Linked DNA regions of Homo sapiens. The protein of the gene in region 1 purifies or fractionates together with the protein of each later gene. This does not show direct contact. Each region holds a gene or a part of one and is shown in the gene's direction. Other genes may lie near its edges.

Region 1 (5,544 bases):
ACAGTATCAACCTTGGGAGGACCTCTGGTATCATAGCTCATCCACCTACCTACAGGCAAGTCTGTAATATTCAAAATCACTAGAAAAGGAGATTCTAAAAATCAGCTCAGCCCAATTCGGTGTCTCCTAACCCCTTATATTCTGGAAAGGAAATTCATAATATCCAACTTAAAGTCATCTAGTTGCAATTGAGGTTCAAAATCTCCTTATTTTAGTCTTAGGAGGAAGTAGAAATCTAAACCAATCTAGATGGTCTTCAGGGACATTGGACATTAAAAACAAACTGTTATTTCCCAAGCCACAATAAGATGTTCCTTGCTTTGGGATGGGAAGAGTCCTGCCTGAAGATGGTAAATGACTGCTCTTAGAGTACCCTCTGCTGGCCAGCCTGTAGGCAAAGCAGAAACAATGGCCAGGGAAGCCTTATCTGGGAGTGGTCTGTCAGGTAGAATAAGCCAACCTTGAGTTAGTCACTCGGTATTATATAATTGTCACCTACCATCATGGCAGGACCCTACCTCTGTTCTGCAGAAAGGCAGAAACACCAACTTTATACATGGCCCAAGACCTAGAAAGACACACGTCAAGCTAAAAACGCAAAGCCTTTTCATCTCAGATTTTTATTCTGCTATAAGATTTTATTGTGGATAAAAAGAAGGAAGCACCAGTGCTTTAATTACAAGAATTGCCTGTTTTACTCAGTTATGCCTTTGCTATCACAAAAGCAAACTATTGCATCTACCAACAGCGTCACGTATAATAGACTGGAACTAGGCAAACATGAACATTGATGGCGAGACTACAGGGTACACTCTCATCTAGGTGCCTTGGATTTATGCGTGTAATATACCCCTAAGTGTGTAAACCTCAATAAAACTCAAAGCAGCTTTATTGAGCTGTACCCTGTGGTACTTTCAGAATCCCACATTGAAGAAATTATTCATTCCATTTTATTTTAAAACAAAATAATAACATATGGTTTAAGCCACAAATGTGTTTTTGATCTTTTCCTCGTATGTGGTGGCACCAAAATTCAGATGAAAATTGTTGCAAAATCTTTATTAAAAGGCTAATCAAGCCAAACAATTTTATTGCATTTTGAAATGAAAGTTGGACGTCTCTCCATCCTTTCCTTCCCCAGAGTATGCTGACTGCACTCACCCATCCTGCAGAGGGCCCTCAGCAGGGTTTCAGAGAGCACTCTGTAGTACACATCAGAGAATGAACATTCTCAGTTCCCCATTAAAATAAAAAACCAATCTCCCTCCCCTGCCCTGGTGCTCCCCAGTGCTGTAATGGCTCAACACCTTCTATGCAGTGACCCACTTTAAGGTCAGCTAGACTGTGCAGTTGCAAAAGGACATGGTAACTGCATTGTTCAGCCATTCCATTTGGTCTTGTATTACTGTTATATTTTTCCATACCCCGTTTCTTTTTATCTTCCACTGTTGCCCATTTTTTTCTCTGCGAACAAACTTGTCTGAAATTCTGCAGTGAAATCACTGGGGAGATAAGCTTCTGACAGCTCCAGCACCCTACAGAGGCCACCTTAGCTCCCACGGCCTGAGTACCCTGGAGGACTGCAAGCCTTCACTCACCCTTCCAGTTTTCTACGTGATAAGCTGTGTACAGCACACTGGCTTTTCCTCTTCTGGCCTATTTTCTTCCCTTTGCCTCATGTTCTCATTCACACACCCATACTTTTCAGGCTGCTTCACTCTGATCAAGTTTTATTGCAAGGAAGGATTTATGTTGATGGTTTAAACCTGATGCAGTGCTATTCTGGCCTTTTCTGTAGATTTCCTGCCACCAAAGCCCACATTAGAAATAATAGCATTTAACCTAATGTTTCATTTTCATTTGACATATTTTACTCTCATCCCTCCTCCTCCTTCTCCCTCTTTCCTTTCCTGTCTTATTTTCTTTTTCTCTGTTTCTTGATTCATTCTCATCTTTGCCTTGTTAGATCTGAGCTCCTTAACCATTCCATATGAAGAGGATGAGGAGGAAGAAGAAAAAGAAGAGACATATGATGATATTGATGGTTTTGACTCCCCAAGTTGTGGTTCCCAGTGCAGACCCACTATCTTGCCTGGGAGTGTGGGGATAAAAGAGCCTACAGAGGAGAAAGAAGAAGAAGATATTTATGAAGTCTTGCCAGGTGAGAAATTTTGTCCTCTGATTATCTTATGCTAGTTTCAGAAATTCATGACCTGGTGGAAGAATAATAACTTTGAAAATTCCAAAGGAAGCCAAATCTAACCCTCATCCTCTGAAGGAGATAATGTGGGACGCTTTATGAGATTGTAGGGAAGTGGGTAATGAGGCTCTGCCTTGCTCTGGGAGCAAGAAGAATTTGATTAATGAGTGTCTTCTATCCATGCCATGTGAAGTAACTTTTTACATGTGTCCACCAGGTTAAAGAGTCAACAATACTTACGTTGGTTTTTATTGGTTTATTGTGAGTTTTGGAATGAGTCATCAAAATTCTCTAGTTTCAACTTTTTGGTGTGTAGTTGTGAGAATAATGGAAAATCGCTTCAAAATTATGAAGGATTTCAAAACTCTGAAATATGCAAATGCTGACCAACCTTTCTAGTAATACCTTGATAGACCAAACCTTGATAGTAAACCTTGATAGAGAACAACTCATTATTACCTAGTTCAGATATACCATGAATCAAATCACATCTCTTAAAAATAACCCTAACATGTTTTATCTGCTCATCATTACAGCAGGTCTACTCAATATATTTCCTTTCTTCCAAAGGCATGAAAACTAGCATCTCAAAAAATGTATAGTCATCACTGCTTCTGCATAGCCATGTCTGGTGGGGATAACAGCAGCTGGTGAATGGTGCAAAGCTCAGTGGGGGTCAGACAGTGGAGAACCAAAGCCTGAGCCTTTTAATTGTGAAGTAGTTAGACCACAGGAACGCTAATCTTCAAGTCCATTCAGAAAGATCATTCCTATGGAAATTTGCCAGGAGTTCAGTGCTCTGCTGAGAAATTCAAGTTAAGCCTAAATTTATAACAATTTAGATCCCAGATGAACCCAGATGAACCTCAATCCCAGATGAACCTAAGAGCTAAGGTGAATCTAACACTCAAGTCCCTGAAGACAGGGCTGGTTGCTGAAAGCATCATCAGTAGGCAACTTGCATTTCAAGGCTTCCTAAGAAGAGCGTCCAACCCTCTCCACACTGCATTCATCTCTTCCTGGGGAAGAAGCTACGTCTTTGCTTCCTGAGTCAAGTGGCAGGACTGTGACCACATGTCCCTGCCCTGCTGGGGACTTCACCCACCCTCCAAGGAGAGCCTGCTTCTTCTCCTAGCACTTCCAGCCTCTACCAGTCCCGACTTCTCCAGCCTTTTTGTTGTGTTTTATTATGCAAATGATATCTTGGTTGAGGTCGAGCCATTTCTTGTGTCTGACGTTAAAAAAAATGATAATTTCCTCAGCAAGTCATCGTCGTTAATGAAGTTTTACAAAAACAGATACAACCAAAGGAAAATAAAATTTCACAGGTGATAAATTTTTCCAATTTCCCTGGCAGAATTCGATAGGATTGTTAAATTAAGAGTGAAGGTGTCTGTTAGAAAGCAACGAGCAGTGATGGGTAATTTTATAGAGTGGAAAATTGAATCAAATTGCTACATTAAAACACAGCTCCTCTGAGAATCTTCCCTTTCACAGTCGGCTCCATTGCAACAGCAGGGTGCAGAAATGGATCTAATTCACAATACTCCCTAAAAGGAGATGCATTCCCCAGCTTGGCCAGAATCTTCCTAGTGAGCTCACATTCTGCTCACTCCTGCCCAGGCTTGGGGAAATATCCGGGTGACACTCCACTTTGGGTTACAACTGTGGAAGAATGCTCTGGGAAAACCTCAGTGAACCTTCTCGGGTGGAAAGAAAGGGCCTTTTTCTGCACCATGTTTCGTTTTCAAAGGAGTCGGGGGGCGGGGGCTGATGCTTAGAGACACAGAGCAAAGGTGAATAAAGAGGAAGAGTCCTCAAAAAATAAGATGAGTTTGGGACTGTCACCTTACCCCAGGAGTGGGCAATGAAGGTATGATTGGCTTCCTAATGACCATCTTTCTCCTGCCTCCTAAACTCCTCCCCTTGGCCAATGCAGCACCGCCCAGAGTATCAGGGCATTTTTCCAAAATTTACACCAGCTGGTATGTTGGAGTGGCCCCAAGGGCATGAAGACTCATCTGTAGGTACATTTAACCTCTATCCACAACAGCTGCCCATTGGAAGTGAGGAAGGCCACACAGTAGGAAATCCAGGATCTCTTTCTGCAGGTTAGGGAAACAACAGCTAAACTGCACCTAGTTTCCAAAGGACAACACTGTACCCAGCCAACAGGTTCTTTCCCATAAGCCTCTATCCATCACAGTTCTTAGAGTCAGAGTTGGAGGTGGGATATATTGGCATTTAATTATGATATGAATATTTCAGCCACAAGTTTCCATCACCCAGCTTCCTGTCCACTCCACTTAGCTGTTGCTTCTGAACTTGCTGTTTGAATTTTGCATAGTGCCACACCTGGAGAAATTAAGAAGGGAATGTGAGGGGGCCTAACACTGTCTCCTTTCTGCTGCCCTCTCATAAGACCATCTACCAAGCAGCGGCACATGAGACAGCAATGGTATCCTAGGCACAGATACTAGCTCTAAATCAGGATGGATTTGCTCTGCCACCTGCTAGCTGTGAGATCTTGAGCAAGTTACTTGCCCTCTCTGTCTGATTGTATTACCTGCAAAACAGGGAAAACAATAGTAGCTGTCTCAGATGGATGTGCTGAGGAGTCTGGAACTGACATGTGTAAAGTTCTTAGCACAGAACCCTGGCAAACAATGGCATACAGTGAGTACTCAGTAAATGCTGGCTGTTATTAATGTGATGGTGTTTAAACAGGAAGTGTTACCTCCTTGAAGAACTGGGGATGGTTAGGTCCCTGCCCTCTCGAACCAGACCTGAGACAGTCCAGTTGGTTATTTCCAGCTATGTGTATGGAGCAGGTGAAACTGAAAATCCTGAGCAGATGGAATGTGGAGTGCACCTTCTGCTCAGGCCCATTTTGACTACGAGGCCAGGTGCTGGGTGGAGGGACAGCCTACAGTAACATTGGATTGTGCTAACATTGCATACCCATCAAGAGTCAAATGATGTGGGCCTCTAACATTTGTTTCCTTATAATAGGTAAATGTGCTTTGTGGAGGATATTTAACATTGACGGTTCTGCTAATCCTCCCTTTTGGGATGGGGCCCACACAAGCCCACACTGTCTCTATAGGGAAAGCCATGTAAGTGAGACCTTCCTTCCAGAGTATAATTTAGATGGGCTTCCTAATAGGGAGAAAAGTGTATGTAATACATACCAAGTCAATAAAAAATGTTTTTTTGTAATCAAAATAACGCATGGGTCATCACATTAAACTCACTCCATCACATTAATCATGGGATAATTAGCATTTGCTATGTGGCTAGCACTCTTCTCCCCTTGAGGGAAAACCAGAGCCCTCAAGGTTTTC
Region 2 (5,051 bases), on another chromosome or scaffold:
GCTAGAATGCAGGTGTCATGAAGGACAGTAGTGGAATTCATTCTGGAAATGGAGGCTTTGGCTAGGATGGGGCATCTTGAAGACCAAGGTAAGAATTAGATTTTATTCAGTAGACACTGATCACCCTTGATGGTTTTAAGCTATGAAGAGACGTTATTTATTGTAGGAATATGTCAGGAAGTAATGCGGGATTGAATCTGTATGTGTACATCTGTATTTGTGCATAGGTAGTAATTTTCTTCATGTAGCTGTTATATCAGTGGAATCCTGTATAGTGTATAAACACAAGTTAAGGCAAAAACTGCTCTATTGGTATACTGGTAGGTAGAAATGTGAAATGAATTAGTTTCCTAACTCAAGAGAAGAAAAAAATCTTGCCTCTGGGCTTAAAAGGAAAATAAAAATGTCAATCTAAAAATACTTTTGTCCTTTAATATATTTGTTTAAAAAATCAACAGAATAGTCTCACTTTTTTCTCAAAAACCAGATTAAACATTTAGGTTTTCTGAGGAGGGGTTAGGTTAATTGAGGTTTAATTTATATACAATAAAATTCATCCTCTTTAAATGTTCATTTGAAGAGTCCTGAAACTATCACCACAGTCAAGTATAGACTGTTTCCATCACTTCATATAAAAAGTTCTGTCAGGCCCTCCTACCCCTGGTTACTGACCGCTGCAAATCAGTTTTCTGTCACTAATATTTTACCTTTTCTAGAATGTCATATAAATCTAGCTCCTTAAGGGCAGGGCCCCCAGGTATTGTTCATCTTTCTGTCTTGTATCTGTATTTCCTGTAAGTGGAAGCTAGACCTTAAGGGTTTATTAGGTGTTCATTAGAAAATTTTTTAGCAAGAATATTGTATATGGCGCTGGGTACTGCATGTTGCATCCCATCCAGAGGTTGTGAGGTTGTCTCACTATTTAATATGTTAAATCTGATTACTTGGGTAAGACGGTACCTACTAGATTTCATCTCTGTAAATGTATGCTTTTTCCATTTGTAAAGAACAAGTAATCACAGGGTAAAAATTTGAGCACATTGTGAATGCCTTTTACCTAATGCTTTTAGCATTCTTTGATAATCCTTGTCTGAGTCAATAATTTCATTAGGGGTTGCAAAATGATGAATTAAAAAATAATTCTGTTATTTCTTCTATGTTTATTAGCTGGTACTCTTCTGCAAAGAAGAGTTGGCCTTCACTGACTGTCAGTGAAATGTAGTTTCTCCTAATCCAGCAGCATAAATGCTTAATTCTCTTCCCTCATTAGCCAAATTGGTGTAATAGTCCAGTGGTGGTGTGGCAGGTGCTGTGGTTAGGCTTTCAGATCCCGCTTTCAGGCACATGTTCCCCTAGCTCTTGGCAATATTGGCAGCTAAAACTGATTGCAGCTGAGTCCCACTCCACGCATTGCCCTGAGCCAAGAGTTGCCTCCCCCAGAGTCATGCCTCCTCTTCAGGGGCAGTTTACATCTAATATCTATACAGTGTAGGGATATAAATGCCTAGCGCTTTTGCTATAAGACAAGCCAACCTTGAAGTCTATCCCAACACCAGAGAGCTCTCCCATGGGTCTGGCTGAGGGCTTCCTGGGACTGCATTGCAGATCAACTCCTTCCTCTGTTCAGTCTTACGTCTTTCACTGCCCCACAGTTGTTGGTTCGGAGGGCACTCCGCAATAAACTTCCGGTGTGCACATCTGCATTTGAGAGTCTGTTTCCTGGGAACCCTCCTACCCAAAGCAGTTGGTGCCAGGAGTGGTCTCAGAAAGTAGACTTTACAGTGAGGTTTTGAAGCTGGATTATTGGCTGGCTGGCTGGCAATGAGAATCGATTCTGGTGCTAGATGGAGCACTAATACTGATAACGCTTGGCATGCACTGTAGCTATGCAACTTAAAACTTTCACTGGTGGTGAGTTGGAATGCTATTCCTGTTGAAGGGAATGCACTGGTGAGTGCACTAGGCTTTTGAGAAGTTCAGAGAAATTAATTATGAGGACAATCATCAGATGGCTTTTGGTAAATAACATTGATAGATTGGAGAAAGATGATGCAAGGTGGAAGATAATTGGGGGCAAAATGTAAAAGGAAATTTATTTAGCATCATGTAAAGAAACACATATACAGTAAGAGGAAAAATCTAAGGCTTCAACCCAAAACTTAATTTTAAGGGTAGCAGAGCACCAAGGTAGGTAGAATTCTCTCTCAGCTATGCTAAGGTCAGTGTTCTGGTTGGGCAGGAATCCTGACCCTTAGGATGGGGCATCTGAGTGCACTTGAAAACCCTGAAACCCCAAATTCCTCTTAACCCTCTGGGCCTGCAGAAGTGGCCTTCTTCTACTAGCTAGAGGGGTTGCTTGCAGACTGTGCTGTCCCTCTTACCCCCAGCTCCTCCTCTCTCGCCTACTGACTATCACCAAACCAACAACTAGGGTTAAGTCACAAGAACACCTAGTTCGGGGTGCTGGATCTGCGAAGGGAGGAAGGGACTGTACACACAAACACACACACACACACGTTCCCAAACTGCACCAAGGCACCCCAAAGCACCACCACAGACACAAAAGAATACCATGGGATATTTCAGAATTTTAAAGGAAACACAGCAATATCTGTCACAAATTACTAGCTTGAGGTAGTTCACGGTTTTGACATTAGCTCATGCCACATTTCTTTTGATGATGTCATATTTTTGCAGGGTTGGATTTTTACTAGTTGTGATACAGATCAAGCACTGTGCAAAAATCAGTGTGGAACAGGAAAGGAGGGTGGCATGTTCAGTCTGATTCCAAGTTTGAGAAGTTGTTCTGTGTCTAACAGGCACACATGTCATATTATCAAGTAATTGAAGTTTTTGTTTGTTTGTTTGTTTTGAGGCAGAGTCTCGCTCTGTCACCCAGGCCAGAGTGCAGTGGTGCGATCTCGGCTCACTGCAACCTCCGCCTGCCAGGTTCAAGTGATTCTTCTGCCTCAGCCTCCTGAGTAGTTGGGATTACAGGCGTGTCCCACCACACTCGGCTGATTTTTGTATTTTTACTAGAGGTGGGGTTTCACCATATTGGTCAGGCTGGTCTCGAACTCCTCACCTCGTGATCCGCCTGCCTCGTTCTCCCAAAGTGCTGGGATTACAGGCGTGAGCCACTGCGCCTGGCCCAGTATTTGTAGTTTTTAAGAAGGAAATAAAAATATTTTTCTTCCAATTTATGTGTTATTTTTTCAAATGTCTACTCATTTGTTAGGACATGAATTCTTGTTATTTGGATCTAACTACTTAATAAACACTACTGTTTGGTATTTCTTTTGGCCTATGAGTGCATGGAAAAATTACCGATGATGGCTGTGCATGGGCCCAATAAAAGGGTTTTCATTCACCAGTGCTGATCTAGCAACTGCTGCTGCTGAATATCCAGCCTGACAGCAGCAGAGATCAATCATCCTTCAAGCAGGCCAACCAGTCCTTATACAGTGGAAAGGACCATGATTCATTTTGATTGGATTTGAGACATATTCTGGGTCTGAATTTGTCTTTCCAGCAGGGTCTCACCCAGGACTACTGTTTGAGGGCTTGCAGGATGTTTGATCCTCTACTACAGGGATCATTTCAGAATAAGGGACCCACTGTTATGTTATGTTATGTTATGTTATGTTATGTTATGTTATGTTATGTTATGTTATGTTATGTTATGTTTTGAGACGGAGTCTTGCTCTGTTGCCCAAGCTGGAGTGCAATGGCGTGATCTCAGCTGACTGCAACCTCCGCCTCCCGGGTTCAAGCAGTTCTCCTACCTCAGCCTCCTGAGTTGCTGGGACTACAGGTGCACATCACCACGCCCAGCTAATTTTTGTGTTTTTAGTAGAGACGGGGTTTCACCATGTGGACCAGGATGGTCTCGAACTCCTGACCTCGTGATCCGGCCACGTCAGCCTCCCAAAGTGCTGGGATTACAGGCGTGAGCCACCGCGCCCGGCCGGGACCCACTTTTATAGAATAGGAGAATCATTTGTCCCATCTTGCACCACACCGTCCAGAAGCTGATGACTTGATAGAGCAGTAAAACAGTCCTTTGATGGCACAGCTGATGATGAGATCCTGCAGCTTGGGCATGATGCCCTGCAAGGGTGAGGCGCCCATTCTCCAGTGTTCCCAGTAGGAAGATCACATGAAATTAGGAGTGGCTCCGCATAGCATCACTCTGTGAATCACCTGGGCAGTTTCTGCTTCCCATCTCCATAGCTCTGATGGCAAGGGGTTAAAAGATCCTGGTTCTCAGAAGAGAAACATTTCCAACAGAGGGCGCTATGAGAATCCTGTTATACTTTAAAGTACAGCTGCCACTAGGATTTGGGGCTCCTTTTCTAAATAAAGAAGTCACCAGGCTGGGCACGATGGCTCACGCCTGTAATCCCAGCACTTTGGGAGGCCGAGATGAGTGGATCACGTGAAGTCAGGAGTTCGAAACCAGCTCAGCCAACATGGTGAGACCCTGTTTGTACTACAAATACAAAACAATTAGCCGGGCATGTTGGCGCGTGCTTGTAATCCCAGCTAATTGGGAGGCTGAGTCAGGAGAACTGCTTGAACCTGGGATGTGGAGGTTGCAGTGAGCCGAGATTGCGCCACTGCACTCCAGCCTGGGCAATAGAGCAAGACTCCATCTCAAAACAAAAAAAAAACAACAAAAAAAGAAGTCACCATTTGGACAGGGTTAATGTCCTTGTTCATGTGGAGGAGGTAGGGCTGTGTTCCACAGTGGAGCATGGAGGTTTGGCACACAGGTGATCTATAAGGTGTCTCTTGGTACTTCCTTGTCCAGTGTTTGTGGTAAATGGACACGAGAAAGGCCCAGTGACCACCCCATGAAGTCAGCCACCTGGACCAACAGAAATACTAGCCATAGATTAAAGGAATCTAGAATGGCTAGTAGAGAAGAGTTGTTGATATCAATTTTACCGTCTGTAGTGGCTGGGGCTGTGGTTTGACCCACTTTCCTTCCTCTGGAAAGTTTCTCCAGGAAATGACACTCACCAGAATTCTGGAGGAACTTTTTCCAT

What was found.
Region 2: the proteins of SKAP1 (region 1) and MYCBP2 purify together in Homo sapiens (affinity purification with mass spectrometry; 3 studies listed by BioGRID and IntAct, with this or other methods). This does not show direct contact.

Annotation. Positions count from the first base shown.
Region 1 is NC_000017.11:48,176,671-48,182,214, reverse strand, and holds part of SKAP1 (src kinase-associated phosphoprotein 1), read left to right. Parts: intron 1-1,966; coding exon 1,967-2,161; intron 2,162-5,544. UniProt on the Homo sapiens protein: Positively regulates T-cell receptor signaling by enhancing the MAP kinase pathway. Required for optimal conjugation between T-cells and antigen-presenting cells by promoting the clustering of integrin ITGAL on the surface of T-cells.
Region 2 is NC_000013.11:77,316,575-77,321,625, reverse strand, and holds part of MYCBP2 (E3 ubiquitin-protein ligase MYCBP2), read left to right. Parts: intron 1-5,051. UniProt on the Homo sapiens protein: Atypical E3 ubiquitin-protein ligase which specifically mediates ubiquitination of threonine and serine residues on target proteins, instead of ubiquitinating lysine residues.